7 separate regions of the Homo sapiens genome follow, and all the other regions are reported to be linked to region 2. Evidence: microRNA targets listed by miRTarBase, many of them from high-throughput screens and not tested one by one. Region 2 holds a microRNA gene; each other region holds the end of a gene's coding sequence.

What was found. Region 2 holds the annotated microRNA hsa-miR-100-3p (CAAGCUUGUAUCUAUAGGUAUG, at 2,699-2,720, opposite strand). A microRNA usually pairs through its seed, bases 2 to 8, with sites in the 3' UTR of a target mRNA and lowers its output. Matches are read on the target gene's strand: a 7mer-m8 pairs with bases 2 to 8, a 7mer-A1 pairs with bases 2 to 7 and ends in A, and an 8mer does both.
Region 1: miRTarBase lists LRIG3 as a target of hsa-miR-100-3p. Seed matches in the 3' UTR shown: 7mer-A1 at 3,648-3,654.
Region 3: the mRNA of ZFP3 is a reported target of hsa-miR-100-3p. Seed matches in the 3' UTR shown: 7mer-m8 at 1,252-1,258.
Region 4: the mRNA of SOX3 is a reported target of hsa-miR-100-3p. Seed matches in the 3' UTR shown: 7mer-m8 at 1,403-1,409.
Region 5: miRTarBase lists POU2F1 as a target of hsa-miR-100-3p. The part of its 3' UTR that is shown has no 7-base or 8-base seed match.
Region 6: miRTarBase lists CNIH4 as a target of hsa-miR-100-3p. Seed matches in the 3' UTR shown: 7mer-m8 at 2,161-2,167.
Region 7: the mRNA of E2F3 is a reported target of hsa-miR-100-3p. Seed matches in the 3' UTR shown: 7mer-m8 at 1,630-1,636 and 7mer-A1 at 842-848.

Annotation. Positions count from the first base shown.
Region 1 is chr12:58,868,898-58,873,283 of GRCh38, forward strand. LRIG3 (leucine rich repeats and immunoglobulin like domains 3) reads right to left here. Exons shown (of 19, transcript NM_153377.5): 19 at 3,258-3,919. The coding sequence ends at 3,675. Among named protein-coding and RNA genes, the nearest start is that of LRIG3, 49 kb to the right of the region's middle.
Region 2 is chr11:122,149,542-122,153,927 of GRCh38, forward strand. MIR100 (microRNA 100) reads right to left here and starts at 2,767; the gene lies at 2,688-2,767. The region is part of intron 4 of MIR100HG (mir-100-let-7a-2-mir-125b-1 cluster host gene); the gene reads right to left. It overlaps MIR10526 (microRNA 10526), which reads right to left and starts at 2,615; the gene lies at 2,562-2,615.
Region 3 is chr17:5,092,406-5,096,791 of GRCh38, reverse strand. ZFP3 (ZFP3 zinc finger protein) reads right to left here. Exons shown (of 2, transcript NM_153018.3): 2 at 418-4,386. The coding sequence ends at 3,779. Among named protein-coding and RNA genes, the nearest start is that of ZFP3, 16 kb to the right of the region's middle.
Region 4 is chrX:140,500,051-140,504,436 of GRCh38, reverse strand. SOX3 (SRY-box transcription factor 3) reads left to right here. Exons shown (of 1, transcript NM_005634.3): 1 at 1-1,452. The coding sequence ends at 717. Among named protein-coding and RNA genes, the nearest start is that of SOX3, 2.8 kb to the left of the region's middle.
Region 5 is chr1:167,414,668-167,419,036 of GRCh38, reverse strand. POU2F1 (POU class 2 homeobox 1) reads right to left here. Exons shown (of 16, transcript NM_002697.4): 16 at 1-3,537. The coding sequence ends at 3,227. Among named protein-coding and RNA genes, the nearest start is that of CD247, 100 kb to the left of the region's middle.
Region 6 is chr1:224,375,245-224,379,630 of GRCh38, forward strand. It overlaps CNIH4 (cornichon family member 4), which reads left to right. Exons shown (of 5, transcript NM_014184.4): 5 at 551-4,208. The coding sequence ends at 578. Among named protein-coding and RNA genes, the nearest start is that of CNIH4, 21 kb to the left of the region's middle. RefSeq lists enhancers at 2,303-2,352, 2,723-2,812.
Region 7 is chr6:20,489,758-20,494,143 of GRCh38, reverse strand. E2F3 (E2F transcription factor 3) reads right to left here. Exons shown (of 7, transcript NM_001949.5): 7 at 430-3,976. The coding sequence ends at 3,714. Among named protein-coding and RNA genes, the nearest start is that of CDKAL1, 43 kb to the left of the region's middle.

The DNA of each region.
Region 1 (4,386 bases), not on the chromosome of region 2:
TCAAAATAAAACCATAGGAAGTAATCTCAAAATAACCAACAAAACAACTACGATAACCTCATAAAAGTATTAGGTGTTGTACTGAAGAAAAAAAGAATTAAGAAAAAAGTTATACTTGTAAAATAGAAGACAAAGTTCAACATGAAACCCAACAAAGGTATATAAAAAAATTATAGAAGAAAAGCAAGAACTATACAGCAGTTGTGAATTCCCTTGTCATATTCTTTAAACTGTATTCTTAAAATTTCTTTAATTAAAACATGTAATTTTAATTAAAAGCCACATGTGAATGTTGGTTTAACTTTCCAGGTATTCATGGATATCAACCATCATGCAGGCAGATATGGAATCCAGATCTGACACTAAAAAAAAAATAGGAATGAAAAATGAACTTGTAATTTTTACAGTAGTAAGAATGGACTTGATAAATTATGCACATTTTAATCTAAAATATAGACTTTCATATGTTTTATCTTAATAATATACCTTGAGTAAAATAAAATGTCTTTGTCAAAAGACATCCCATTCAGTAACAGATTTTTCAACAACAACAAAAAACCAAATGGCCCAAGATATTGAGATAATTCAGAAAATATGTGGGCAAAACCTCTTCTCTATTAAAATAAAATACCAATGAAAATACTTCTGTGCCATTTTAGCTCACGTTTGAGACCAAGCAAGACAATTATTTCAGGACTTTCCTATTACACATTAGTTTAAGAAATGCCCCATAAAAAAGGTTAAGTTCTGGCACCTAGATATTTCTGGAGTATGAAAATTATTCAATTCATGAAGAAACTGTACCTTTCTTTGAAGACTAATTGTTTTCTTGGCAGGGTACTGTGTTATCCAATGTGTTAACAGAATGCTGTCTTAAACAATGAGTTCAAAGTTATCCTATTACATAAATCTGATCATTTCAGATCGCAAGAGTGGGAAGGACAGCTCAGGCATTTTGCAAGGACATTTGGTTCCCATTCTCTTGAAGAATACCAGTGTAGCACATCTATCATAATATTGGTTATAAATTACTTCCTATCACATTGAATTGAAAGAAATAAAGCCTCCCAAGTGTGTAGAAACACCAAACCACTTTCCTTGGTTCTGTCAATCTTTAAAAAGTAGTGTGGCTCTATTCTGAGCAGTAACTTTTGGTTTCTTTCTGTAGAAAGGCTGTGAAAATAAATTATATATATTCCACAGATACTTAACTTTCATAAAATTTTGCCAGAACTAAGGAATATTTTTCCCCAATATCCTACAATTAGTGCCAATAGTGGAATTAAGATATAAATAATACAGAAATTTTGTGAACATCTATTAAAATATGTTGTACATGAACTCCTATCAAAAAGCATAGGATGATTAAACTGGAATTTTTAAGTATTCCTCCAAGCAATGTGACATTTATCTACATTAGGCTTTTTACCTTGAGTCTATGTTATTTTAGGTTATCTTACCACCTACTAGATTGATTTTGTTAATTCAATTTGGAGTCTCAAAATCATATATATTCTTTTCCTGCAAATGTCAAAGAGAAATCAAGTTCCTACTCTTTCTCCAGACAGTTAACATTACATCTAATCCACAAATTTCAGCACATACACCCAGTAAAAGGGTAAAATCATACTGATGTAGAGTGAATCTAATTTTTGAATTTCAGGCGTTAATGATTTAAACCTTTGTGCTTAAGTACGGAAAAATTAAATCCTTTAAAAGAAGTTCATAATAACTGAAAAAGGCCCCATCTGGCAATAATGAAGACAAATTAACAATAAAATTTTGAAAATCTGGCAATATGATCAAGCCAAAGCATACGAAATTACTTCTCTGTACTTAGTCACTGGTGGTCCAAGGAAGGATCAACTTCCTGTCTTGGATTCTGGCGTCTAAATTAAAGCAGGAAAATCGACTGCAATCTGGGTTCCAGGCTTCTGGCTCACAAGCAACAAAGCTCGAAACTCACTAAAAGCAGGAAGACTTTAACCCCAACATATTCTCTAAGAAGAATCTGCTTTTTGAATAGCTGCTTTCAGTTTAGTTCAAACACAAGACAATGGCATAAATTCACACCTTGGAGGTTAGTTGACTTTTAAAGCTTATTGTGCTATATTAACTCCTTTTGTGCCAATTTATCTTGAGCAAGAGGGTTTTTCTTTAAACTACACATATGAGCTAGAATTTACTACAGAAGAAAAAAGTTTTATAATCTGAATTATTAAACTGAATTTTTTTTCCTTTCAGTTACTTTGAATTGTGTCATCTAGTTTTGAAAATATGGTTATATTCCAATGAGAACACATGGACACAGGAAGGGGAACATCACACACTGGGGCCTGTTGCGGGGTGAGGGGAGCAGGGAGGGATAGCATTTGGAGATATACCTAATGTTAAATGATGAGTTACTGGGTTCAGCACACCAACATGGCACATGTATACATATGTAACTAACCTGCACGTTGTACACATGTACCCTAAAACTTAAAGTATAATTAAAAAAAAAAAGAAAATATGGTTATATTCATTTTTCTGTGTATATATGCCTGCCATGTAATTACATTTTTCAATGAATACTGTTTTAAAACAAATGTTTTAGTTTTATGTGCTTAAGTAAGATATTTTATACTTAGTTTTTAACCAAACCTTGATGATCAAAGAAAATATTTTGGTAATTGTTCAAAAATAGCTTAGAAGTACCATTTATATACAAACTGCTCTTCCAGCAGAAAATCAATAAAAACAGAAAACAATTCTAGCAGCATCTCATTACAACCTGGAACAGTGCATGAAAGTCCACTTCTGCTAGAGCCATTTTAGCTATAGACATATGCAATAAACCACTCGCTTGCTGTAAGAAAAGGGACGGCAAAAGTGAAACTACTTGGATAAGCATAAGGCATTAGACCACGTAAACCATTATTATAATTAAAGAAACATGAATTGAGCAGTGATTTATGGTAGTTGTACTATATTACACCAGATTATAACAACAAATCTTTTTTTGTTCGTAGATTTAGAAATAATGTACCTTAAATCTCTGTAGCTCCTTCTCGTTTACAATTGTGCTTTCATATGCACAATCTGATTTCAATCTGTATTACAACAATCCTGGGAGGTAGAAAAAACGGTCATTTTTGTTCATACTTTAATGGGCTAAATATAATTCCCATCCGTTTGAGACATGATAATGTGAACTAATTAAGCCTAAATTGTGCTAAAAATAATAAAAATTGTTATTGTATAAATGGGGCTTGGCATCAAATTGACACATTTTATTAAATATAATGTGCAAAATATAATGAAGTAACTTCTATTTAAAAAATGGTACAAGGCAGGTATTATTTAAAATGCTTTAGTAACTCATTTTCCATAAAAAGAAATCTGGCATTATAAAAATACATAAAATAATCATGATTTATATCATTAATTTACGTAAGATACTTTTTTGCATAAAACAAAGTTAAAAAATAGTTTAAAAAGGTATTCTTATATGAGCATCATTCCCAGTATAAAAATTTTCATAACTTTTTGTAATTTTGGTTCATCTGTATAAATAAAGCATTTTTATCCTTTTAAAATTCATAACTCCATTTAAAAAACATAAGATTCTCTCTCTTTTAAATAAAAGTTCACTTGAGGTAGTATGTTAAGCTTTTCCTTTGGTCTCATTCAGTCTATGTGTCCAAGTCATAAGACTGAAAATTTGGAGTCCTGTAGTTTTCTAAAGTCTGTTTAAAGGTACAAATGTGATTTTCTTCCTGAAAATCTGTCCTTTCTTTCCCATCTTCCTCTGACCCAGAGTCCAAGTCTGGGGAAGAATGAGCTTTCAAATAAAAGGCTCTTGGCTGACAATCTGATGGCTGTCCAAAGCTTGAATAGGCATCTAGGTGAGGTCTCCTGAGAGCTTTTCCAAAGGTACCTGAAAGAAAGAAACACCTTGAGCACATGGGTCCCTTTGCTAGCATGTGAATCAATAAAACCCATTGCAAATGAAGGAACATCTTACCCCATGAATATGAGTAAGTGTTTTCTACAAGTCCACATTATGGCACTCACATACATGTACATCTGTCTTACAGCCAGATCACTTCTAGAATGGAGCAAAAGACATTTGCCTTCCCTCATATTTACATCCACTGAACAAATGCATCTATTCTTTATCATTTCTCATGACCTGTAGTAATGTTAATGGTCATGCAATAAAGTTCCCCAATATAAGTTTCCCCACATCCTAGCTGAGAGCCCAATTTTGGTGACGGGTGTGTTGGATGGTAACATCCAAGTTAACTGAGGCTAAATAAAGAAATTTTCTTTCAAAATAAACCTGTGTCCTGCCCTTTCTTCATTAATTGTAGCCAAATATTACTCAATTGAATCAAATTCTTG
Region 2 (4,386 bases):
AAGTAAACATTCATAAAGGTTTGTTGAATGAATGAGAGAATGAAGAAATCATAATTTTTCTAGCCTTACGGCTATGCCCAATGTAAAAAGTGACTTTTTTTCCAATTCATACTTTATTAACTACCATGTTAGGTTCTAATAAATCTTTGAATATCTTTGAAGAGTCATTCACATCGACTTCTCTGTACAAATTCAGTGCTATTACAGGCAGTAGAGGCTTTAAAAATCTTAATTAGAGAGCCTAGGTGGCATTTGATGGGATTAAATACCATAGTCAACAGATAAGGATCCACAGGACCTAACAAATATTGAGGAATGATTCGTAAGCACATTGGAAAACTAAGAAATCATATTAGTTTAAAATTCAAAATTAATTCTATCATACACATACCATTTTTCCCATGTAAAGAAATACATCTATTAATTTTGAAATATAAATAAGAAAACTTCTCAAGCTAAATCTCAGCTTCTCCCTCCTCAAACTCTGATGTTGCAGGGTGAGTTGCTCAGGGTGAGTTGCTTTATCAAATGCATTTCTCGGAATAAGTTTCTTTTCCTGTTTTAAAAAAACAAATCTAAACCATGTCCTGGTATTACATCTTAAATATATTTTGATAGTGATGATTTGAGAAATTTAATAAAACTAGTTTGCTTTATACCCATTCCATTTCCTCCATGCAATAATAGCTGTTGAAATATTTCTTCCAAGCCTTTCTGGGGAAATTCTGAAATTATTTTACTTTCTGCATGATTCCTGTAGGATATTTGGTACACTCTGAGGGAGCCTCAAAGGAATAATTAATATCTACAGAACCATTCATTCATGAACATGGAAGGAGGGAAAAATACTGAATTTCATCATGTAAAATATTTAATATCCTGTTTCTTGTGGCCAATGTCCAGGGGCTTTGGGCTTCCCATTAGAATATTTTCTAACCAGATGAATCAAAGTTTGAAGCCGTTTAGAAACTTTGAAAGGGCCAACTGCTCTATATAATCTTTTTTTCTTGGGATAATGTGTTTTTAAAAACCTCCTTAAAAGAAGTAATCTGGCAGTCACCCACTGGCCATTTTGCAGTCCCAGTATTGTTCCTGTACGGGGAATACTGGGAGCTCATGGTCCCCATGGATCCATGAACTCCACCGCTAATCCCATGGTAGTACACTTAACAGCAGGTTAAAGGATGATGAGTAGAGATGTGATTTTGCCGTTATCAAACAAGTATTTATCTAGTGGAGGTACTGATTTAACTTGCTAGCAGTTTATTCATTCCAAGTTAACCACTTCAAAGAGGCATATAAAACTAACCAAGCAAATTGTTTGCTTTTTGTGTAGATAAAGGCCTTAGGCAAACAATTTATACAACACACACCAATGAGGACAGTCTTTCACTTTGGGTTGTAATATGCCATCATTCTATAATAAAGCAATGCTTTCTTGGCAAGCAGGGGGTTGAGCACCATAGACAACCCTCCTCAGTGCTATGCAAAGGAAATGCATGGAAACAATGTCGTCTTGGTCTAGCAATTACAGAATTCCAAATTCTACCCTTTATACATATGTCATCTGTATCTAGGCTGTCCTAATTCGGAAATGCAAAATCTCATTTCTATATACTGGATAAAAGAAAGAGTTTTAGTTATTCCTGAGTAGGTCTTAAGAGGAGACAGAATTTATCCACTTGAATTTCAAACTTTTCTCTAATGTTAACCCACCAACTACTTCATGTTGACTTTTTTTGTTAGAAGAGGACACACACACACACACACACACACACACACACACACACACACATCTTAAGGGAACTTCTGGCACTATGTTTTACCAAAAGGGCATGCAAAAGTTTTAGAGTCATCCAAATCTGATCAACTTTTCACCCTGGGTTCTAGTTCTGTTTACAGACTCCTCAGCTCACATTGTTGGAATGAAACAAATATAGCCAGTTTTGCTTTGATCTGTGGTCAGTTTAGCTTTTCAATCCTGGCACAATGGTGACATTTAAGAGGCAAGAGGATAAAATTATTTTCATTCCAGCGTTTTAAACAGGATAAAGACTTATAAAACAGCTCTGGCCAAATATGAATTTGGACCTAAACAGGCGATCTCTTTTTTATAAGAAGTCCTTCTTACACTGCTGGATATAAATAGAAGTATAAATAGTTAGGCAGTTAAACACATCCATTCTGATTTATCAGTCCTTATCTTCAGAAGCAAAATTATTGGGGAAATTGGGGGAGGAAGAATTGCAACAAAGGAAAACCCAAAAACCCAAATCACGGTGAAATTGGTCCTGTAAACACATCTGCCACTTTCCAGAAAATATCATAATAACTTTGAAAACAATTAGGCTTACAGAAAACAAAACAAACCCTTGTTTATCTCTTTACTCATCACTCAACAGTAAGTTGTTCCAATCACTCAAATTCTTGCTGCCTCACCTGTAAGCTCAGCCTTCTAATTTGACAGCAGAGACCAGTTACAAGAGATATGGGAATTGAGGGCCAGCCTATTAATTCATCATTGAAGAACCTCATTCATTTCAGGACAAAAGGTCTCCTTCCTCCACCTCAGCCCCCTTTTCCATTTTTATCACTCTTAAAGGAAACTAAGGGGAAGAGAAGGAGAATGAAATAACTCGAAGGGATATTGAATGGCATATAAGCAAAGCCCCAGGTCCGTGAGATTGCCTAACAGACACATACCTATAGATACAAGCTTGTGCGGACTAATACCACAAGTTCGGATCTACGGGTTTGTGGCAACAGGCCTCAATATCTTCTCTCTTTTGGGGCTGTGACATGTCTGAAAATAAAATATTACAACCATTAATCCAATAAAAGAGTCTACCATTCAATTGTTTTATGCCATAAATGGAAAGGACTTCGTCCCACTCTCACAAAAGCAAAAGTTAAGCAATATCTTCTATGTTCTCCCCAACGTGCTTCCCTTGGTTTCCACTTTTTCCACAAATCCAGTGGACTTTAGGTAAACCTCATCATTTTACTGTTTATATATGGAAGACTCATTTATTCACTGCTGAACACATAATCTGGGCAAAGTGATACCAAAATGGCAAACCAGCAGAATAAAGAAAATTCTTTAAATTGTAGGCAGAGAGAAAGAACACATGAGAGCCCAAATGCAAGTCCATTCCTTTAAATACCTGTCATTACATTAAAAATGATGGTGAAATTTTCATTTTCCTATTTGCATTCTGGAAAACAACTAGAATAAACTTAGCAAGTACTACCAACGGATTTATAGGTATATTTTTTTTTTTTTTGAAAACCACTCTAGAGTAGATTTTCAGGTATATTAAGATCCATCTTCGGGAAAAGTTTGCATTTTTGTTCCCACCCCCATCCCATCCCCACACTTATTATTGATTCAAACACCAACAATGAGCAAGTTTGGGTGTACTCTGTAAAATTTGAACCATAGAAGAAATTACATAGTTGTTCCTCCTTCCCCCCGCACCCCCCGCCCCCCGCAATACTGTTTGAAAAAACAGGGATGAATCTGTTTCAGAGACCTTCTTATAAAATGATTGCATTTGTCAACATAACATTTTTTTTCTGCAAAGCCAATGTTCTACATATAAGAAGGGAACATCCAAGACAATGGACTTTCATTAACGACGCCTTTTGTGAATTGTATTGAAGACAGGCATAATCATAAGCACTTCAGGGACATATATTATACAGCTAAATAACTCCCTGTCCTAGATGCTGGGAAACACACATGACTCCATCCCTTTACAGGACCTAAAAAGAGACCTTTTTAACTTTTGTTAGCTATAATTATGGATCCTGGCTCTCAAAATAATTATCTCATTTGCCTCAAAAAATGGACATTCACTCCTTTCTCAAGAATCTGGGGCCAGGCACTGGTGGCTCATGTGTGTAATCCCAGCACTTTGGGAGCCCAAGGCTGGCAGATCACTTGAGGTCAGGAGTTCAAGACCAGCCTGGCCAACAGGGTGAAACCCTGTCTCTACTAAAAATACAAAAAAATTAGCTGGGCATGGTGGCGTGCGCCTGTAATCCCAGCTACTCTGGAGGCTGAGGCATGAGAGTTGCTTGAGCCTGGGAGGCAGAGGTTGCAATGAGCCGAGATTGTGCCACTGCACTCCAGCCTAGGCAACAGAGTGAGATTTTGTCTCAAAAAAAAAAAAAAAAAAAAAAAAAAAGAATCTGGGAGATGAACTGAAGCCCTACCAAGGGGAACAAAAAAAGACAGAGCTGAATTGAGGAATTATTCAGAGAAAAGAGCAGGCCCTCGTGTATGCAACCTAAAAAGTTAAATAAAGAGAACAGGAAACCAACAGTACGATGAACAGAAACTGAGACATAACCATTCATAGATACTTTGTTGTTTCCCCATCT
Region 3 (4,386 bases), not on the chromosome of region 2:
ACAGCATTAAGAACCTGGCATCCGCCAGGAGTCAGAACACTTGTAAAAATTTAATGGTAAACAATCAGCAGCACCCGCCGCCACCCTGAAATTTCAGTAATAAGGTGATTTTTTGTTAAAGGCCATACAAATGGTCCGGAATATTTTAAGTTGCTAATCATGAAGAAAAACGTGTATACCAACACACGCACAATAGATAACACTTGTCCTGTTATTTAAGATGAAGGATCTCACCAAGCAAAGCAGATCAAGGACACAGAATGTACACTGTATGCAAAACCAGAAGCTAACAAGCATGTGGGGGTATTTAGGTAAGGTGAAACTTACAAGGTGGGGATGAAACTGGTAAACAAAGTCCTTATTAAATCCATAGTGAAACATAATGCAATTTGGAATAAACATGACAAAGGCATTGTATCAATAAAATAGTAAAGAAATATTTTATTTACCTAAGGTGTTAGTATACCATTAAAATTAGGGAAGGAAGAAAATTTTGTACATGGGCATAGCTTCAAAAATTCTGAAGGGTATTTCTGGGTATTTAGATAGGACTTTTAAGATTGAGGCCTGTGCGGTTTTTTAATGGGTCTAAAATTAAGACAATTCATGTCCTTTCCTTGATAGTATTTGCACAAATCATCATTACCAGTCACGACTGTGGTCAGATGCTGACTCCCAAGTAAGTCGAAGAGGGAGGCAAACAGAAGGAAAAGAGAAATCTTCCTGAGATATCTGGGTAAGACATGAAGAGGACAGAGAATTGAGGTTAAGGATTTGCGTATATGTACCTAATAAGATACAAGTGATTTCATTCACCAGAAATCTGGGGCGGGGCGGGGAATATGTATCTATATATGGTAGACTTTTCTGGGAATGAGACGTGAGACCTCCCCCTTAAGAACATGGTCAGGTACAACAGGTCACTAAATTGCCTCCTAATGTTCAAATGAATGAATGGTGAACTAGAGGAAGTTTTGCTGAGCAGGAATGGGTTTAAGAGGGTAATTGAGCTAGGGCCAGGGGAGGCGAGGTGATGGATTGGATATCTAGTAGGCAAAAAGAAGTTGAGGTGACTGAGCCTTGAGAGGGGAGGACAAGAGGAAAACCTTCATTGGTTTGGCCAGTAAGGTACTTCTGAGAACAAAATGTCTAATAGGATGCACAATGTGAACTCTTCTCCTTTGCTTACACACTATCTTCAGTGAAGTCCATATTGCTCAGGGGTGTTTGTGTGCATAGATTGTTTAGGAGAAGCTTGAAGGGGTGCCAAATTCTCTGTCAGGGCTGACAAGAGGTAAATGTGGAAATAAAATATGCAAACACGGGAATCAGGCATGGAAGGGATAGGTGAGATCCAGGTTTCATGTGAGAAAGATACGGTCTGGGCACAATTCAATTTGTGCTCCAGCAATGAAAAAGGAATAAGACGGCGCACTTCACTTGTAATCAACCTAAGGGAAGAAGTAAATCAAACAACTTCCCTTACTAAGAGTGTGACTGCTAGAGGCAGAGGTATCTGGAAGGATGTGGAAACTCTGCAATCATCTATTTGTACAACCCTTTTCTCAAGCCAAGGATATAAACCTGGGAAGACACCTATATTGGAGTACAGAATAAACCCATTTGGTGAATTTTTTTTGGCTGTGATCAGTTCTGTTACCAAGGACATGATTTAAATTTGTTATATTCAAATCTACATAGAAATCAGTAATAGAAACTGTGCAAAGGGTTTCAGATAAGGCAGTAATGAATCTGCCTACCTGCGGCATAGCACAGTGGTTAAGAGCATCAACCAGGTTTGGAGTCTTGGCTGTCGCTCTTACTAGCTGTGGAATCATGGGTCAATTACTTAACACTGCCCCTTCTTATCTTTTAAATTGGGGTAAGAATACCCACATCATTGATGGTTGCACCACTATGTAAATTAAAAATCATTCAACTGAACACTTAAAACAGGTGAATTTTATAGTACGTAAATTATACCTTCATAAAGCTTTAAAAAAATGAGTACCCACATCATAGAAATGATGTGAAAATTAAAATGTAAACTGGCACTCTGCCTGTCAGGTAGTAAACACTCAATAAATATTAGTGACTAATATTAGTGTAACAAAGATGAGGTTAAAGAATAATAAAGATATATAAAGTTAAATTTTTAAAGAATTAAGGAATTATCGGGCTGGTTGAAACTTTTGAGATCACTTAGTTCAACTCTTTCATTTTACAGAGGAGAAAATTGGAGACCAGCAGGTGAAGTGCCTTGTTCAAGGTCTAGCGCTAAGACCAGCCCCCAGGCCTGTTGGGCCCCCATTAGTGCAATTCCCACTGTCACCCACGGCCTCAGAAACATGGACACATGGAAAATGTAGGCTGTTTCCTTGGAGAAGAAATAAATACAGAACACAAAAAACATGCAGACATAGCGAAGAAAGAATTTCAAGGCCGGGCATGGTAGCTCACACCTGTAATCTCAATACTTTGGGAAGTTGAGGCAAAAAGATTGCTGGAGCCCAGGCATTCAAGACCAGCCTGGGCAACATAGCAAGACTTTATCTCTATTTTTTTAAAGTTATTCAAGAAAAAAGAATTTCAAGGCCAAGGGGCAAAACCAAGAAGAGGCTACGACATCCTGACTTAGCCAGGGCCTCCAGTGCGGTCCAGGTCATGAGAACTTAAGTGCTTTGGCAAGGCCAGACCCTGGTTTGTCATCAGGTGAACTGACTCATCACTGTAGCCAGGTGCCCGGAGGAGGTGAAGCCACAGTCCTGTCTGCTACTTACTGTCACAATATCTGTCAGCAGTGGCAGGAGATGGGGCTAAAAATATATGCAGCAGAATTCTTAGGAGCAGTCAGTCTGAGCACCCCTGAAGTGTGGACAGCTCCTGAAGAGCTGCTTCTGCCCATGCCGAGCAGTGTGACCTCAATTGTTTATCCCCTGGTGTTGCCTAATCGGCCCCTCTGGATTCTAAGGCCTTCACTTATAATCCCGTTGTAAATTGCCTGTCAGTTCCTCCATCATGGCAGCCTCTTCAGATGAATAAGGAAGCCTGACAGATGTGAAATGAGCCTGCTTCTTCATTAATGCTGCCATCTTCTAAAGTAACTTCATAGCAGGGCTGGACGACTTTGAAGCTAATAACAGCTTACTAAATTATTCCAATGCTAAACAGTGGACAGGAGAATGAGGTGTGTCTTCTAAATTATGACTTTCTAATATTTCAGGGGGTAACAGTCAATGAGTCAACTCTCATTCTTAGGAGGTGGTGGAATCCTGTTCCCACAATTTTGCTGAAGAGTAATTTAGGAAAGATGGCTGGTACAGACCCTTAATGTTTGTTATGTGATCCACTGGGGGAGGAGAAGGGGAAGGAAGGACAGAGGGGAAATTAAGGCCTGAAAGAGCTTTTATGATTTAACTTAGCACACTGAAACCTCTCAATGAATAATTCATAAAAGTGCCTCATTAGTGCCTGCAGTCCTAGCTATTTGGAAGGCTGAGGCAGGAGGACTGTTTGAGCCCAGGAGTTCAAGGAAGCAGTGAGTTACGACTGTGCCACTGCATCCCATCCTGGGCAACAGAGCAAGACCCCAATGCTTAAAAAAAAAAAAAAAAAAGTGCCTCATCTTCTTCAACCAACTATTTAAAATCAGTGGGAGGACAGAGGAGGTTCTGTCCATTCATTGGATTTGAATACTTGGGGTGCATATTTGCATATTATGAACAAATGAATAAGTTGGACTTTAGCTTTTCCACTAAAAGCTTTCCTATTTTGCAGATTACTCCATACAGTGAACACTTTGATGTCGGAGGAGGTGAGAGCTCCGACTAAAAGTCTTCTGACATTCTTGGCACTCATAAGGCTTCTCTCCAGTGTGAATTCTCTGATGTATGATAAGTTGGGAATGCTGGCTAAATGTTTTCTCACACTCGCTACATTCATAAGGTTTCTCTCCAATATGAATTTTCTGGTGGAGAAGCAGCTCAGAATTATCCCAAAAGGTTCTTGCACACTCATTACATTGATGGGGTTTCTCTCCAGTATGAATTCTCTGGTGGACAATAAGGTGAGAGGTCCGCCTGAAAGCCTTTCCACACTCAAAGCATTCATAGGGTTTCTCTCCAGTGTGAATTCTCTCATGTCTAAGAAGTTCTGAGTTCCCCCTGAAGGCCTTCCCACATTCCTTACATACATAGGGCTTCTCACCAGTATGAATTCTAATATGTCTAATAATCTCTGAGTTCTGGCCAAAAGTTTTCCCACATTCATTACATTCATAGGGTTTGTCCCCTGTATGAATTCTCTGATGCCGGATAAGCTCAGAACTCTGCCCGAAGCCCTTCCCACATTCATTACACAGATATGGTTTTTCTCCAGTATGAATTT
Region 4 (4,386 bases), not on the chromosome of region 2:
CGACCGCGCCGCAAGACCAAGACGCTGCTCAAGAAAGATAAGTACTCCCTGCCCAGCGGCCTCCTGCCTCCCGGTGCCGCGGCCGCCGCCGCCGCTGCCGCGGCCGCAGCCGCTGCCGCCAGCAGTCCGGTGGGCGTGGGCCAGCGCCTGGACACGTACACGCACGTGAACGGCTGGGCCAACGGCGCGTACTCGCTGGTGCAGGAGCAGCTGGGCTACGCGCAGCCCCCGAGCATGAGCAGCCCGCCGCCGCCGCCCGCGCTGCCGCCGATGCACCGCTACGACATGGCCGGCCTGCAGTACAGCCCAATGATGCCGCCCGGCGCTCAGAGCTACATGAACGTCGCTGCCGCGGCCGCCGCCGCCTCGGGCTACGGGGGCATGGCGCCCTCAGCCACAGCAGCCGCGGCCGCCGCCTACGGGCAGCAGCCCGCCACCGCCGCGGCCGCAGCTGCGGCCGCAGCCGCCATGAGCCTGGGCCCCATGGGCTCGGTAGTGAAGTCTGAGCCCAGCTCGCCGCCGCCCGCCATCGCATCGCACTCTCAGCGCGCGTGCCTCGGCGACCTGCGCGACATGATCAGCATGTACCTGCCACCCGGCGGGGACGCGGCCGACGCCGCCTCTCCGCTGCCCGGCGGTCGCCTGCACGGCGTGCACCAGCACTACCAGGGCGCCGGGACTGCAGTCAACGGAACGGTGCCGCTGACCCACATCTGAGCACCGGCCTGCGCTCGTCCACCCTTGTTCCCCACCCCCACCCCCACTCCCGCCCCGCACCCCCAAGTTGGGACGCCTTGTTTAGCTTTGCTTGCCTGGGACTGTTGCCTTGTACCGATGATGGGGAGGGCTGAAAGTTTTGCTGTAGCTGTCGGGTTTTGTACAAAAGCAAAAATAAGTCAGGAGCAGCGAAAATGGGACTTCTAGAGAGCTCTCTTGCCCCACGCCGCTGCTCCTTTCACCTTTGTAGGCTGGGAATCGCTGTGTTATTTGCAAAGAAAAAACAGCCCCCACTCCTCCTCCTGAGTTCCAGGGTTATTCTGTTACATTTGAAAATGTTGTCTTGTTAGTTTGCAGTTAGCCAAGGAGTGAATGGGAGAAACATAGTATCGGGTGAGGCCAGCTGGAGAACTGCAACGCCTACGCCCCCAGTCGTGTCGCGTCTGTTTTCCTCGTGGTTTTTTGGGGCGCTGACCGCTCCAAGCAGCGCGGCAGCTAAAGCCAATGTTAATTTATAGCCAGGTGTGCGTGTGTCTCCCGCCTCGCCGCCCCTGGCCGCGGGACAGCTTCTGTCCAATCATGTTGAGTTGGTGATTTCTGCCGTGATCTGTTTGATATTTCTTCGCGCTAATGTGTTCAGATTTCGTTTGGGTAGTGGGGAGGGGCTACTTTGTTTCAGGGTTTTCAAGCTTTTACTCTTAATTCCTAAATGAGATCAATAAATTTTATAACCAACATGATGGAGTCCTGATAATTTTGCGGCCCTGAAACTTTTTTGCAGGTTGGGGAGGAACCAACACTCGGTTTTACAACTGAGATCCCATCCTAGGGGCGGGGTGGGACCTGGGGGGAGGCAAGCATAATCTGAAATGGTTTCCTTTTAACTACTGGTGATCCACCATACACCAGCTTCCAATATTCTCAACTGAAACTCGGAACAGAGTTCCGAGTCTTCCAGGAGCGTCTCCCGAGAGCGGGCACACAGTAGTAGCTAATGCGCAGAGCCCGCGGCCGCGCACTTGTTGATCGCAGTGAGCGTCTGCTGAAAGTGTCTGCTGCCGCAGCCACGCGAGGCGGGGCTGGAAAGGCGCGGCCGCTGAAACCGACCAAAAACGGGGCACTTTTACCTTTGTGCACTGGGGCGGGAAGACATTTGAGCCTAGCTGAAATATTTACAAAACGAAAACCCTTCGGAAATCTCGATGATCCTATTAAAAATAAATGGTTACAGGGATCCCCAGCAGGAAACAAATACGTTTCAACCCTGGTAGCTGAACCGCCGGAGTCAACATTCAGCGCTGGAAGATTTGGTATTAAAAAGTACTCCTTAGATTTTCAAAGATCTCCGAAACTCCTCCCAGGCGTTTTGTTTTTAACATGTCAACTCAGTCCACCTATTTGTTTTCCAGAGAAGGCTCCTTTTCATCCAGAGTCTCGAGCCCGCTTTCTACTCCATCCCCCTCCCCACTCCATCCCCCTCCCCACTTTCCTCCAGTCCCTGACCCTTGGCCATTCCACTGTGCCCCCCGAAGGGCCTTTAGTTTCGCGCCCAGCCACACGGCCCCAGTGTATCTGTTTGGGGCCTAGGAAGAAAACAAATAGAACCAGTGTTTTTTTACCCCCTCCTCAGCTGTTTGAGGTGATTTCCTTAATCCCTTTAATCCTGTTACCTCGCTATCCCAGAATAACTAAACTCAGCCTTTCCAATAAGCTTGGCCTGGTGCACTGTTTTTATCCTCATCCACTACTGACCACAGGTTTCTTTGCTTGAGGTCCGCTGGGACCCTAGGCGACAGAGTCTCCCGTAAATTGGTCCGAATTCCACATTTCCAGCCGGCTTCCTTTGTGTGGGCCAGTCATTCACCTGCGGGCCGGGGAGGGCCTGGTGGGGGGGTGGGGAGGGGGCTTTCTGAGGCTTCGGGGGTCGTGCCCGCTTTTTACACATCACTGCGGATCCTGGAGACTAAACCCACTCCGCCTCTTCAAGAAAGGTCGGGTCTCCCTGGGAAGGCAGCACCAGCCCCCTAAGACATTTCCACTGCCAACCCTCACCCCCCGCATTCCATCCCCCACTGTGCAGCATGGGGTGGGAGGGGGCCGGCGTTGATTTACAGACCCATACGCTTTGCCCTCCACCCAGTCCTCCTCCTGGTCCTGCCGCGCGTCCAGGCTCGGGTTCGGGTTCAGTCTTAGCCTTGGTACCACTCCCCCTTCTCCCAATCCCAGGGCCACAGACCTCGCCCCCCTCCCGGCTGGTTGGTGCTTCAATCCTTGCTGCTGTGATTGGAGCAAACCTGCAAGCTGCCTGGTCAGTGAGCCTCATCTCCCCTGGCCCCTCAACCCGGGTGCTCCAAAAACCCAGGGGCGAGAGGAAACTCTTTTGTCCCATCTATCCCCCCACCATATTTTTACCGTGTTTGGCCTTCAATAAAATACCTGTCCGTAGGTTACTCTGGGTTTCCAATTGCTAGCAATTGTGGACTCAAATTTGGTCTGAAATGACTCCAGGAAAGGGAGGGTAAAAACAAGCAATTCGCCCCCACTGTGGGAGGCGGTGCCAACAGGGGAATAAACTCTGACACTGCTTCTTTCGAAGAGTCCATTGTGCTGCTGCCTTCTTAGAAGTGCCAGGGTCACCCTTTCAGTGTGTCTCACATACCGCTCACTCTCTCTCTAAACATCCATGGCTTTGTGCTTCACTTTGTCTGATTTCCAAATTGCCCTTAAGGGAAAAGATTTCATCAATCAGCACATTAGGAGGATTTAAATACAGATGAAAAATGATTTTTTTTTCTTTCCTTCAGCAATAGGGAAGAGAACGGAACTGAACTAGAATGAAACTTTCATCTTCTAGGCCAGAGTTTTCAAACTGGGGCCCCTCCCCCACTCCTCCCCACTCACGTCTATCAGGGCAACCGAACCTTAATCCATTTTATAGATTGGGGTTCTGATAAGGTTTAATTTGTAATAAGGGTTCTGCTGCTTAAACAGCAACAATAATGAAATCTGGTCAAACTCCAATTCCTCCTCCCTCCTCTTCCTTGTTTTACATAGGAGGAAACTGGCCCCAAAAGGGGAAATGACGGTGCTCAAGGTTGCGTAGCTGGTTCTACCGCGGCGCAGTGGAACCACACTCCCAGGCCTGGGAGGGTACTCTCTCCTCTGCCGGCCACAAAACCAAGAGATAAACCAGTGAAATCACAGCCCCAGCTGCCCCTCAAAGCCATAATCCAGCGGGGCCTCTAGAGAAAGGCAATTCCTGACACAGAGACTCCTACTAGCCACCTCTTCGTGAATGATGTGATGTGGGAAGCATCAAGTCCTTACCGAGGGAAAATGGCTAGTCCATTTTTTAGCTTCTATGATAGGTGCAGAGCTACTTTTTGGTGGGAATTACCCTAGGTAGAGTTTTGCTTTCCTATCTTCTGACTATACAACTTCCTTCATTAATCCCCCTTCTAGAAATCTAGGAGTGGGTGAGGGTTGGGGCTGAAGAAGCGCATCCAAAATGCAGCCAAAGATTTATAACAAAGATACTCATCACAGCCCTTCTTATGCAAAAAAGTTCCAAACAGACCAAATGTCCAACAAATGGAGAAAGGTTAGGTAAAATGTTTTAAAAAGTCTGCTTTGCAGACATGAAAATCGTTTACAGAGAAATTTTTAATG
Region 5 (4,369 bases), not on the chromosome of region 2:
GAGTTGATTTTAAACTAAACAACCACCAAAAAGCTATATTAGTGTTTCGTGTGTACATGTGTAAATGTACCTTTCATTTCACAACTTATTTTTAAATAAGTAAAAAAAGAGAAAAAAATTTATTTTTATCTAAAGATTTATCTTTTCCTAAAGATTATTTCTTCTTTTAAACAGATTTTTTATGCTGGTCTACCCTCATCAAGTGCTTCACATAAAATCCCCTTATCCCAAATTGAGTAGAAAATATAGACAGGGCAGGGAATAAAAGACCACTGTATTGACATTTAAAGCTTAGTATCTTTTCTAATATTAAAGTCTGTTGGTGAGTTTTGTTTGGGAAAGGGATCATTTTCTAAACCATATGTGGGGAAAAAAAAACCACCCAAACAGCCTTTCCTTGCCCTTTGTCTTACCTCACTGAGCTTGAGTCCCTTGGGACTCCACACTTCCTTTGGTAGCAATTTTGAGAAATTAATGCTATAACTTCTAATCCAGTATACTGGGTACCAGCATTTCCCTCCCTGAATCCTTCCTTCTAAGTTTCACCACTCCCAAGGGAGGGACTCATTATTATGGGCAGCTACAGCATTACTGATAGCCCTAAAATCATTTCCACAGACTAAAGGTAGAGATGTCAAGTCAGGATAGAAGATTAAATTTAACTACAACAGAGAAAAAGTGAATGGAGAGGAGAGAAATTAGTAATTGACATTGTCATTCTATTTACACACCAACCTAATAAACTAGTTAAACATCAAGTTAATGTCTGCCCAGAGGATATCACAATTTACCAACATAAAAGATTAAAAACAAGCAGCAACTTTCATATAAAATTAATAAAGACAAATGAAAAAGAAATTGTCAGTAGCATCTATCTCCTCGATGTGTCTGAACTGCACGTTATCAACTAGTCCATTAGTACAGCAGCTTGCTAAAAATTGACTTTGGTTCAAGCTTAGTTAAAAAACAAAACAAAACATAAAAAAACACACCACACAAAAAGGGTGAATGGACATTTGTTAGTTTCCCTGCTTGCAGTTCACTGATTTTGGAAGGATTTTAGGGAAGGTGAAGGGTAAGAGGAGGAAATTTAGGGGTGGTAATTAAATATCTGTGAAATAAAACACGATAGAAATAAACTAAAAGAAATATTTTAAAGGGGACTAAAATGTTTCTGACCTTTTAACAGACTGTCTCCCACTTGAATCACACACAAAAGTACACATTGTGTCTGTATTTACTGCCTTACTGGACAATGGGAAAGAGACAAGTACACAGAATCCAAGCTCCCTTGTGGACACAAACAAAAGCAATCAGAATAAAAATCACCTGTAAGTTCTCTCTACATCCCCAGCTCGAAAGGGAGAAAAAGTGCAGTCTTGGGACCACCAGAGATTTAAGCAAGCACCCACAGCCACCAAATGGGAACCTTTAACTCCAATAAGAAGGGGAACTTAGATGAGCTGCACTGCAGTGATCCAGTCTTTTGGAAAATTTTTTGGTACAGATGGCATAACAACAGTACACTGACAAAAAAAGGAATTTAATCTCCAAGTTACCCTTATTCCTCTTCATCCACTTTCACAAACTCTTCCTTTTCAATGGGCTCATTTATATAGTCTACAAACACCCTGAAAATAATTACAGAGCTAATTACTTTCTACATTGAATAAAGAGATGTGTATTGCCATTTAGACCTACCTAGCAGGAGCATCATGAACAAACCAAGGAGACACTTAAGGTGTGTGCAAAGTTCCTGCTCAAAGTCCTTCTTCAAAGGTTCTACAGATCCCAGCCCGGCTAATAAGTGCCTCCTTTAGTCAGAGAACCAAGAAGAATCTCAGGGTTAGAGGAATTTATAAACCATCCAGTGGAAAGGAAGTCTGTGGCTCTCTAGAGGAAAAGGTGGTAACCTTATACCCTTCTCATCACACCTCTTTTGTATATATTATCAATGGAAAATAGTCTAGTAGAATTCCTTTAGAAAATAAAAGAAGGGAAAAGTTTCCCAATTTCAGTAAGTCAGTTTTTTTTCTTTGCCAAGTTAGTTAAAGTTTGGATGAAAAACTTCCACAAAATGGAACAAACAAACAAACACACCAACAGCAGGAGCATTTTTCAGGAGATAAGAAATCAGGAGAACCACCAAGTCAGGTGTCTGCAGTAGTCTTTGCTCTTGGGAACCAAATCCTGCCCTGCAACATGTACAGCTGTTCCCATTGAAAGTAGCAGAAAGCAGCACTGTTGCACCACAGGAACTGGGCCTCAGGGTCATTCAATGATTTGGGGGTGAGTGAGAGCTACAGTTCAGCAGGAATTCCTTCCTACACAAAAGTGCTCCAAAGGCACCACCTGATGTGGGGAGGGGAAGGGGCGTGTGTGGAATGGGAGTGTTTGCACACACTGCCTTCAGCTTCTGCACCAAGCCTCTTGCATAAGTGGCAAAAGAAAATAATTTTCTAGCACCTCTGTAAGAGTCATCAAGGATAAGGAAACCAGCAAGAACATTCCCCACAGTTAAGAACAGAAGTCTCCCCTTACCCCAAAACCCTCCCTCCCCACAGTGTGGGAGCTCACTGAAATAGGATCCAGGAGCAAGAGATAATAAACATGTCCAAACTATATATATAAAACAATAACAACAACAACAATAATAATACAGTAATACAGGCCTGCCTAAATTGTACCAGTTAAGAAAGGAACCCCCAACACAATTGATACGATTATAAACACCTTGTTATGACTTAATGGCCTGTACAACAGACCCATAAAAATGATTTTTTTTTTTTAAGAAAAAAAGAAATTTAGACAAACAAGAAATCCCCTTCCTATATTGGAATTGGTAACCCACCTTAACTTGTCATCATGACTGCTGGAAATGATAAGTAGTCCTTTCACTTATTTTTGTTTGTTTTTGATTTTTTTGTTTCTTTTTTTTTTTTTTTTTTTAATTTTTGGTTAGAAAGTTCTCCAATCCATGAAGCAATCCTGAAAAGACAGTGTTTTATTACAAAATTAGGCAAATGTTCCGTCTCCATCCTTTCTTTCTTTTTCTGGTATGTGTGTATGGGTGTGTGTGGTTTTTTTTTTTTTTTCTCCCTTCTCTCCTTTGCCCTCACAACACGGCGAGAGGAAGCCAATCACATTTTTCAGTTTATTAACCTGGCTGGCAGTCCAATCACACTGCAGAGTGAAAAAGGCTTCTGGCAGCCCAGCTCTGCCCAGCTCACTGTGCCTTGGAGGCGGTGGTGGTGGTGGACGCAGCCCCGCTGGCAGAGGCCACTGTGAAGAGAGAGTTCTGGATGGACTCAGCAGAGGTGGAGGTGGCGTGAAGGCTGGCTACAGGTGCAGAGTTCCCTGCAGATGCTGCGGCGGCAGAGACCAAGCTAACAGGGTTGCTGGTGAGCAGAGAGAGGTTCTGAGGGTTCAGGAACAGAGGGGCAGTCACGATGTTGGGGGCTCCTCCCGCATTGGCAAATACCAGGTTCCCAGTTGCATCAAGTGATGTTATTGGAAGAGAGCCACCAGAAGCAAGAGCTACAGACAAAAACCCCCCAAAACAGGCAGGAATGAAAACATTAACATCATCCTGGAGAAGCCAAATAACACATCAAAAGTCTATCATTTTCCTACAACCCACCAGGAAAAAGTATAGCCCTTCACTGAATTTTTTTCCTCAAACACAGTGCTATATTGATACCAATTGTAGTTTATTTTTAATTTTGAAGAGCCTAAAAGACTGAAATGTCTAATTTAATGGGCACAAGCAGGGGTAGAAGACAGCTAATAACTGTCTAATGAATTAGAGTCATGTTCGTGTCTTGAAATCACCAGTTTATTTCATTTACCTAGACATATTTGATAAATCCAATAATTTTGTCTTTAATGAAGACTGCTGATTTTAAACTACCTCTGTTCAAAGGACAAACTAGCTGAAGTGATTAAAGCATTAACAACAGGAGGTGAGTGGTGGGCATTACAGCCTGAGGCCTGCCTCCTGTTAGATCAGTGGCGGCATTAGATTCTCATAGAGCACGATCTGAGGTGGAAACAGTGTCATCCAGAAACCACGCCACCACAATGTGGCTATGGAAAAACTGTCTTCCAGAAAACCAGTCCCTGGTGCCAAAAAGGTTGGGGACCACTGCTTTATATTATGATATACAAGATGAAAATCATCTTGCAAAAAGGCTTTAGTTCTAAAATAAATTATGTATCACCAAATAAAGTTAAAAGGTATAATTAATTTCTCACTTCCTGAGGCTAAATACTTGATTTCTATGACTTGTGCAAAGGAGAATGATGAATCTATTGTAGCAGGAAATTAGACATAATGATGTAGGTGGGTGATCTAAGTCTAGGATGTGCT
Region 6 (4,386 bases), not on the chromosome of region 2:
GTAGAGACAACATGTAAGCCACAGCAGCAGGAAGAAGAGCTGTGGAAGGAGGCTGTGCAACTGCCCTGGGCTGAGAGGCCAGCTTCCCCAACGAGGTGCCCTAGAGCCAATCACAAAACCTGAGTAAGAAGTTACTGCTTTGATGGAGTGGTGGGATGGGGAGAAGAGGTTCCAGGCATAGAACAGTATGTATCTGGCTAGAGAATTTAAAGGTTTTTTTTTCTGGACATAGGTGTTTTTTGTTTTGTTTTGTTTTTTTTTAACTGAGCTAGGTTGTTTTTGTTTTGTTTTGTTTTTATTTTTTTAACTATAGCCTAACATAGGTTTTAAGTTGTACTTCCCCCAACTCCCCACCCCCAGTCACTCTTTTTTAGTGAAAAAGTTTGGACATGAAAGATCCTAATATATTCTTTCCTTTGGGTATGAATGATTGTCTTTTACTCAAATGATTGTTCCTTTGTGAACCTTAGGGACGCAAGTCTGGACAAACCAGGCTCTGTAGGAACATTCCTGAGAAAACATTAGTGACATTCATTTCTTCTTTCCACAGTATGATCTTAGCTTTGATAAATGACTGAAGCTGGAGAAGCCGTGGTTGAAGTCAGCCTACACTACAGTGCACAGTTGAGGAGCCAGAGACTTCTTAAATCATCCTTAGAACCGTGACCATAGCAGTATATATTTTCCTCTTGGAACAAAAAACTATTTTTGCTGTATTTTTACCATATAAAGTATTTAAAAAACATGAATTGAGTTTCTGTAGATTTCTAGTTCTCAACTTTAGCCTGAACGCCAACACTTGAAGGTGTTTTTCATCCTCTGTATGTTGAAGGTGGTTATTTGTATGTAGGAACAGGACTGCCATCCCAGCTTTGCATGCCAAAGAAATAAAGAACACACTTTAAAGGGCAAACTGAAGAGATGAGCGAGCAAAGGTGCCCTTCAGGTCTACTGAAAAGTTAGAGTACAAAACAACACTGTTGATCTGGACAAAAGAAGAAAAATTACCCTTTTTGCTTGTGTTGTGACAACTTCATTTAATATGGTTTAAAGATTTATGAGACTGTCAGCTAAAAGTCTTTTCACAAGAATGTCAACAGAGAATGGCATCTCAAAATATATATATTTCTTTGCACAATTTGTGAAACCTTATAAGCCATTTTCCCCAGGTACAATGTAGTTCCTGCTGATAGAAAGGAAATATTTTGTCAAGAGCTTTCATTTAAAAGCTACTACCTCCACAATCACCCCCAAACCCAGAAAATCCCCACTGGCTCTTGCCAGTCTGGTTTTCGTATTGCAGTTATTCCAATTGTATTTGATCTCCCTGATAACGTATTTTCATGGGTTTGGGTAGAAGATGCTAATCAGATTAGAAGCAGGAATAGTTATTTGCTGTCTGTGAAATTGAGCCTTTTGGTGCGCCACGTGGTGCCAGATCAACACTTCTATCCCTCTGCACTGACCACGTTGTGAACTGGGAGACCAAATGCAAGCCATTTCATGGACATAGCAATATACAACCAAACTCTGTTCCTTGGAGTTATATTGTAAACTCTTGCAGGTGGGAGAGCAGTTCACCTCCTTAGCTCTGTTTGCCAGCTCTTACAGGGTAAAATAAACCTGGCAATTTATCCTCAGTCCTAGTTTGTGGTTTAATGTTGCTATCTTAAGCACTGGCATTTGGGCAAAACATGACTGTGTTCTGTGGGAGAATCCAAAGGCATTATTCACTCTAGTTGAGATAGAATTGGGTGGCTAAACAGGGTGTGTGGTACCCAAAAGATTAAATGTTACATGTCCTTTTAGTCCTTGACCAGGTCTAGCCTTGGCAGAAGCAAGGGAGCCACTAAGCCAAACTCCCTGTGCAGACAGACCATGTTTCAAGGCTGGAAGTAGTGCCCTGGCAACACACAAAAGGAACGGTGAAATGGTAGGCAAAGTGAACTTGGCTCTGCTGGCCTCTTTGGGGTCACAGAAATTGCTCCTTGTGGTAATCTTATATTTCTGTCAGGCACAGGGCCAAGAAGCTGTGTAACAGACATTACTTTGCTTGCATCTCTTTTTCATACCTTTTCCCTCTGAGGCAGCTTTTGCTTAGAAAACAGTCCCTTCACTCTGCCTTTCCTCCTAACTTCCTGTGCCTCTTCATGTTCTGCTCAAGCTTTTTAAAGCAACGAAGCTGTTGGAGAACTTAAATCCTTGCAACTGAGAGATAAGCTACTTAAAGGCGGTAGAGATCTTTTTTTTTTTTTTTTTGAGATGGGGTCTTGCTGTGTTGCCCAGGCTGGAGTGCAGTGGTGTGATCTCAGCTCACTGCAACCTCTGCTTTCTGGGTTCAAGCGATTCTCCTGCCTCAGCCTCCCAAGTAGCTGGGATTACGGCTAGCTACTCCTGGCTAATTTTTGTATTTTTAGTAGAGATGGGGTTTCACCATGTTGGCCAGGCTGGTCTCAAACTCCTGACCTCAAACGATCTGCCTGCCTTGGTCTCCCAAAGTGCTGGGATTATAGGTGTGAGCCACTGCGCCTGGCCATGTAGATGACTTTTGACCAAAATGTTTCACCTTCTCATTCAGATATTCTTAGTAACCAAAACAGTGACTCATGCAGTTGAGAGAGCCTTTGGGCTGTCAGTTTACAGTACATCAGGCTTGCTGAGGCTAAGCAAATCAGAAAGGTGCCATGTTTATAACAGAGGTCAAAGCTCCTTACTTCTGAAACATTAGCTGTGGTTAAAAACAAAAACTCTTCCTTCTTGTATTGCTTGTCTATCAAAGCCAGGAAAGTGGGGGATCACTGTAGTTAAATTTTTTTTTTTTTTAATTAGAGACAGAGTCTTGCCCTGTCGCCCAAGCTGGAGTGCACTGGCGCAATCGTGGTACACTGCAGCCTTGAACTCCTGGACTCAAGCAGTCCTCCTGCCTCAGCTTCCCAAGTAGTTGGGAGTAGGTGCACACCACCATGCCCAGCGAATTTTTTGTAGAGACAGAGGTCTTGCTATGTTGCCTAGGCTGGTATCAAAATTACTGGCCTCAAGCGATTCTCCTGCCTCGGCCTCCCAGATGTTGGGATTACTGGTGTGAGCCACCACGCCCAGCTCAAAAACAATTTTTTTAGGGGCACTTCTACAAATCATGAAAGGGGGATAAAAGCACTGACTTTAAAAAGCCATGTTTAAGATGCTATAAATGTTCTCCCCTTTTCATTGATTGGAGAGTTGTAGAGGACCTTAGAGATCATTTTGTCTAACTCCCTCATCCCAAAGATAAACTGAGGCCTAGAGATCGTTCAGGGTGTTGTAACTGGGAACATCTGAATGCTGAGGCCTAGAGATCGTTCAGGGTGTTGTAACTGGGAACATCTGAATGCTGAGGCCTAGAGATCGTTCAGGGTGTTGTAACTGGGAACATCTGAATGCTGAGGCCTAGAGATCGTTCAGGGTGTTGTAACTGGGAACATCTGAATGCTGAGGCCTAGAGATCGTTCAGGGTGTTGTAACTGGGAACATCTGAATGCTGAGGCCTAGAGATCGTTCAGGGTGTTGTAACTGGGAACATCTGAATGCTGAGGCCTAGAGATCGTTCAGGGTGTTGTAACTGGGAACATCTGAATGCTGAGGCCTAGAGATCGTTCAGGGTGTTGTAACTGGGAACATCTGAATGCTGAGGCTTAGTCCAGTGTTCTCTCTCCCTTACCACTCCTCTTCCCCTTCCCTCTATAATGGCAGTACCCAGGGCCCGGTCCATAGACTACTATCGAGTGCTCCTATGTGCATCTTAGTACGTATCATTTTCCCTTGCCTTTTTCCTTCTATCCTTTCAGTGGTAGCAACTGCCCTTGCTAATCACCGTAACCTCGGCTGAGAAAGAAGAGGAAGCGAAATCCAAGATGCAGCTCAGTTCATCAAAGCCTAGCAGGTCCCCTCAGCTGCCTTTTCATGCCTGCCACAGACTACAGTAGGACAAAACCTGACCTGGTCTTTGAAGTTAAGAGCTAAGAAAGCTTCCTATAGTAGTATCTCCCATGGCACTTACCACATTCTATCTGGTATTACAGTTATTTGTATGCAATTAATCACTCTTAGATTGTATGTTCCTGGAGGGCAGAATATGCCCATTCATATTTGTATCTTCTTCCTTCTGCTCTTGGCACCTAACACAGTGCCTTGCACACAAACAATAAATGATTGTTGAGTGAATAAGTAAACCTGATTGTGGTGTTCTATTGCTTTTTCAGCAAGAAGTCAAACTGATGGCCTTTAAGTCAGAGAAGCAGCAATGGAGCAACATAATCAAAGTTGACCATCTTTGTTTTCAAGACAGTCACATTATGAAATATTCTGACATGCTAGGCTAGGAAATGGCTATAACTGGTTCACTTGAGA
Region 7 (4,386 bases), not on the chromosome of region 2:
TTTCTCCTTAACTTGTTTAAGAATGTTTTAAAAAATTCAATTAATAGGCTGGGCGCGGTGGCTCATGCCTGTAATCCCAGCACTTTGGGAGGCCGAGGCAGGCGGATCACTTGAGGTCAGGAGTTCGAGACCAGCCTGGCCAACATGGTGAAACTCCGTCTCTACTCAAAATACAAAAATTAGCCAGTCGTGGTGGCGGGTGTCTGTAGTCCCAGCTACTCAGGAGGCTGAGGCAGGTGAATCACTTGATCCCGGGAGGTGGAGGTTGCAGTGAACCAAGATTGTGCCACTGCACTCCAGCCTGGGTGAGAGTGATTGACTCTGCCTCAAAAAACAAAACAAAAAAAAAAAAAAGAAAAAGAAAATGAAAAAAATTCAATTAATAGAGGAGCACAAGATAATATTAAAGAAAACCCATCCACAAGCCTGAACTCTTAAAAAAAATCATTTTATTGATCCTTTACCATACAAAATTTATTCAAATTACACCCATTTGAAGTGGTAAGATCACAGCTAGAGAACAGGTCACCCTGTAACAAATCTATTTACAAAATCCATCATAAAAGCTTTTTTTTGTTTTTTTTTACATTATATTACATATTTTCTTTTTTAAACTAGCATACAACACAAAGCTAAACTGATTAGTAGTTTGCCTACTCCCAATTTTGGGAGAAATACTTCCTTTTTACAAAATCACGTACCCCGTAGGAAAAGAAATTCCCACACCCTGACAATTGCCACCCGACTTACTCTGCAAGCCATCTTCCTTCATATCCCTCCTTCTCATACACACGAGTTGTCATGCACACACTGAATTCTTATTTTCTTTTTCCTGAAAGCTTAAGCTTTAAATACTGCAATTTTATTTACAGATCTACACGTACAACAAAAATGAAAACAAGAGCCACAACAAAGAACAGAAAAACAAAAACAAAATAACACTCTTAAAAAATTACAAAGCAGCTAGAAAGTATTCTGGCAGTGTTTACAAATTAATTGCTATTTTTGTACAAAATTGCTAAATAATGAAAATGTGAGTAGACTACATATCAACTTAAATAAAACGATTGCTATGCACAACTCTGTACATATAAACACACTCCTAACACTGTTTGACAGCTCATGTGTTGCCCTTTATACATTTTATTTTCTAAGGCTCACGCAGTCATAATTTGCACACTTGTAACTTTTAGCCATTTCGTGTGTGAGCTTTAATAGCAGCAACTCAATGGTACCAGGAAACCTGCATACTTAGTACTTAAAGTAACGCAAATACTGTAGTACTAACCCACTTTGTGTGCCGGATACTAAGTCAAAAAGAAAATTACTTAATGCAAACAAAATACAGTATGGACATCTAATTAATGTACACCAGTTAAACCCAGTAACTGGAAAAAAATCTTATGCATGAAGGAACTTTTAAGACTTATTAGTATTCCTTTCATTTTAAAAACAATAAATACGGCATTACATTATGAAAAAATTCAACAAAACACACAACAATCTAGCCAGGTGAGCTCAGTCTTTAGACTTTGGAAAAAATCAGCTTTGTGCAGCTGGCAAAGAGAATTACACAAAGCTGGAAGCAGAGGCAGCTAACCAGATGAGATAAATATGGGAAATGGGGAAAAGCTTGGCATAAATGGTTTCCCATACAGGAAAAAACCCCACAGTGCATTTCCAGTAGGCACTTAACACAAAGCTCCCTCTCCCTCCCCCACCCCAATGCTTCATCTAGGACCACACCGACATTTTGTACCAAGTCCAGTGTGTGTGAGGGGAGGAGGCCAGGGATGGAGGCTGAAGAAGAAAAAAAGGAAGATAGTCTGCACCTTTGTTTTTCTTCCCAAACATACACCCACGCATACCCACACAAAGAGTTTAAAGTGCTGGTGTCATCTGTCTTGACCCCACCACCACTTTGCATATTGTGGAAATCTACCTGGAGTAAACTGGCTGGGGCTCTTGTGGTTTTTTGTGTGTTTTTTTTTTTTCCTAAGGGATATTTTCAATTCAATTAAACATATGAGTTGAGTGCCTACTATGTGCCTACCATTGGGTCAGGCACATAGCATTTCAATTTAACTGTTCGTTTCGAGGTTTGTTCTTTATCTGACTCCCTCATTCCCGCAGTCCTTAGCATCCAAGGAATGGACCGGAGATACTACGCCATATTCCCAGTGGGAGATGGCCGCTGCCACCTGCCCGAGGGAAAGCCATTCTTGGACATAACTGGTAGGATTTGCAGCTGACACAAAGCCTCCAACTTGGGACACCATTCCTGAAGAGTAAAGCGGGAGACACCCTGGCATTGTTTTGCTTCATTTTTTACGTCCCCGACTTCCCTTGGTCCAACTTATTCCTTCATAGAGGAAGGGGAACGGGGTCTGGCCAGAACTATTCCAGCCCCCGACACAGGGCTGCTCCCTGTTCCTGCCAGCTTAAGGAAATGCCACTCACACAATGGGGATGTCTTTCTCCCTAGAGGTCTCTCCATCTGACCCCATCCTGAGAAGTGGTCTCCCTGAGTGCGGTGTAAGAGAGCCCTTTCCCCTGTCACAGGGGCCCGGGAAGCCCAAGGATGGAGGGACCCATGCCTGCTGCTCCTTGGGGCTGTTACATCATCTGACCTGGTTCTCCTTTCCAATGGGCCACCCATGTCAGCAAGCCCCAGGACTGACTCGCTCCAAGCTCCCCCTCCTGGGAATGGAAGCACGATGGGACAAAGCTCCTTGCAGAGGCTGATAAACCTTAGATCACACAGGTTTAGATGCTCTGATCAGTAGAGGTTCTCTCCCTCTGCTTAAGTAATATGAATTTGCAAAAACCGCTTCAAAGTAAACAATTAAATTGAAATGGTGATGGGTGCCACAGGAATGCTTAAATGGCAGCTAAAAAAATTAAAAGTCTAGAACAATCCACAAAGAACTAAGTAGGCATTTGCTACAAATCAACTGGAAACTCACAAACACATTGGGGACGGGGGAATGGGAGTGGTTCATGGAGACAGGAAAATCCACAACAGCTTAGAGTGGCAGAACTCTACTAGTCTTCTGTATCTGCAACAAGTATATTTGAAAACAGGTTCTTCATCCAGAAGGCTGTGGAGGTTTTCTTGACCTCCTACTGGGACACACAGTTCATAGCTTAAACTGAATTATGACAGTAATTTAAATATTCCTAAGAAGAGCTGAAGAAATCCATTTCATACTTTTGCATGACTTCAAGTTTGCATTTGCTGCAGTTCCATTCCATATTAGCAGACCTCAAAGACATGCATTCTGCGGAGAAGGCACGGCTTGAAATGCTATTAAGGAAGATTGCTGTTTCCCAGCAGGCCAGGTGGCCAGACCCCATTCTACAGCCCATCCGTCAGGCACAGCAAGCCAATCCGGGGAGGAAGGAGGAAGGACAATTCGGGGTGAGAGACACCTGATTGCACATTTTCTCACTTGCTGACTTAGCCAGGAGATCTTGGAGCCTGGAGCAAAGCAGGGCTTTCCCAAGGGAGCCTGCAACTGTGCGTTTAGACAATTTGTTTATTAATTTTTTAAAAAATTCATTAAAATGTCAGCTTTCTTCTGAAGTTTGTAGTTTACTTCATGATACTCTCTTGGAGGAAGAAGGTAGGAAGGGACAACACTGCATGACAGATGTTCTGGTTCCATGATAAAAAAATATCGGTTTTTAAGGAGAGTTCACACGAAGCATAATCAACTACACATGAAGTCTTCCACCAGTGGGAGCTTTTCCAAATCGTAAGCATCGAAGAGATCGCTGATGCCTTCCTCCTCCCCGAGGCTCAGGAGATAGTCCTCTTGCAGCAGGGGAGGCAGTAAGTTCACAAACGGTCCTTCTAGGTTGGAAGGAATTTGGTCCTCAGTCTGCTGTAAGAGGTTGGCTGGGGAGGCCAGAGGAGAAAGGTTTCCCATAGAAACTGAGCAATCGCTATGTCCTGAGTTGGTTGAAGCCAAGTCTGAAAAGAAAACATTGATGGAAACAAAAAATAAGTTAGAAAAATCAAATGAATTTTTCTGGAAGAATGTATATGTTGCTGTTAGAAAAAAGCATGTACCTTCCGCAAATAATGACAATGAGACGACTTTATGATGCAGATCACCTTTTATGCTAACAGGTACAAAAAAGTTCCTTGCCACCCCCGTCCCCCTTTTAATTTTTGAGACAGGGTCTTATTCTCTTGGCTGGAGTGCAGTGGTGTGATCATGACTCACTGCAGTCTTGAACTTCTGGGTTCAAGGGACCCTCCCACCTCAGCCTCCCAAGTAGCTGGGACTCCAGGTGTGAGCCACCATGCCTGGTTAATCTTTTTTTGTAGAGACAGGGTTTTGCCATGTTGCCCAGTCTGGTCTCGAACTCCTGGGCTCA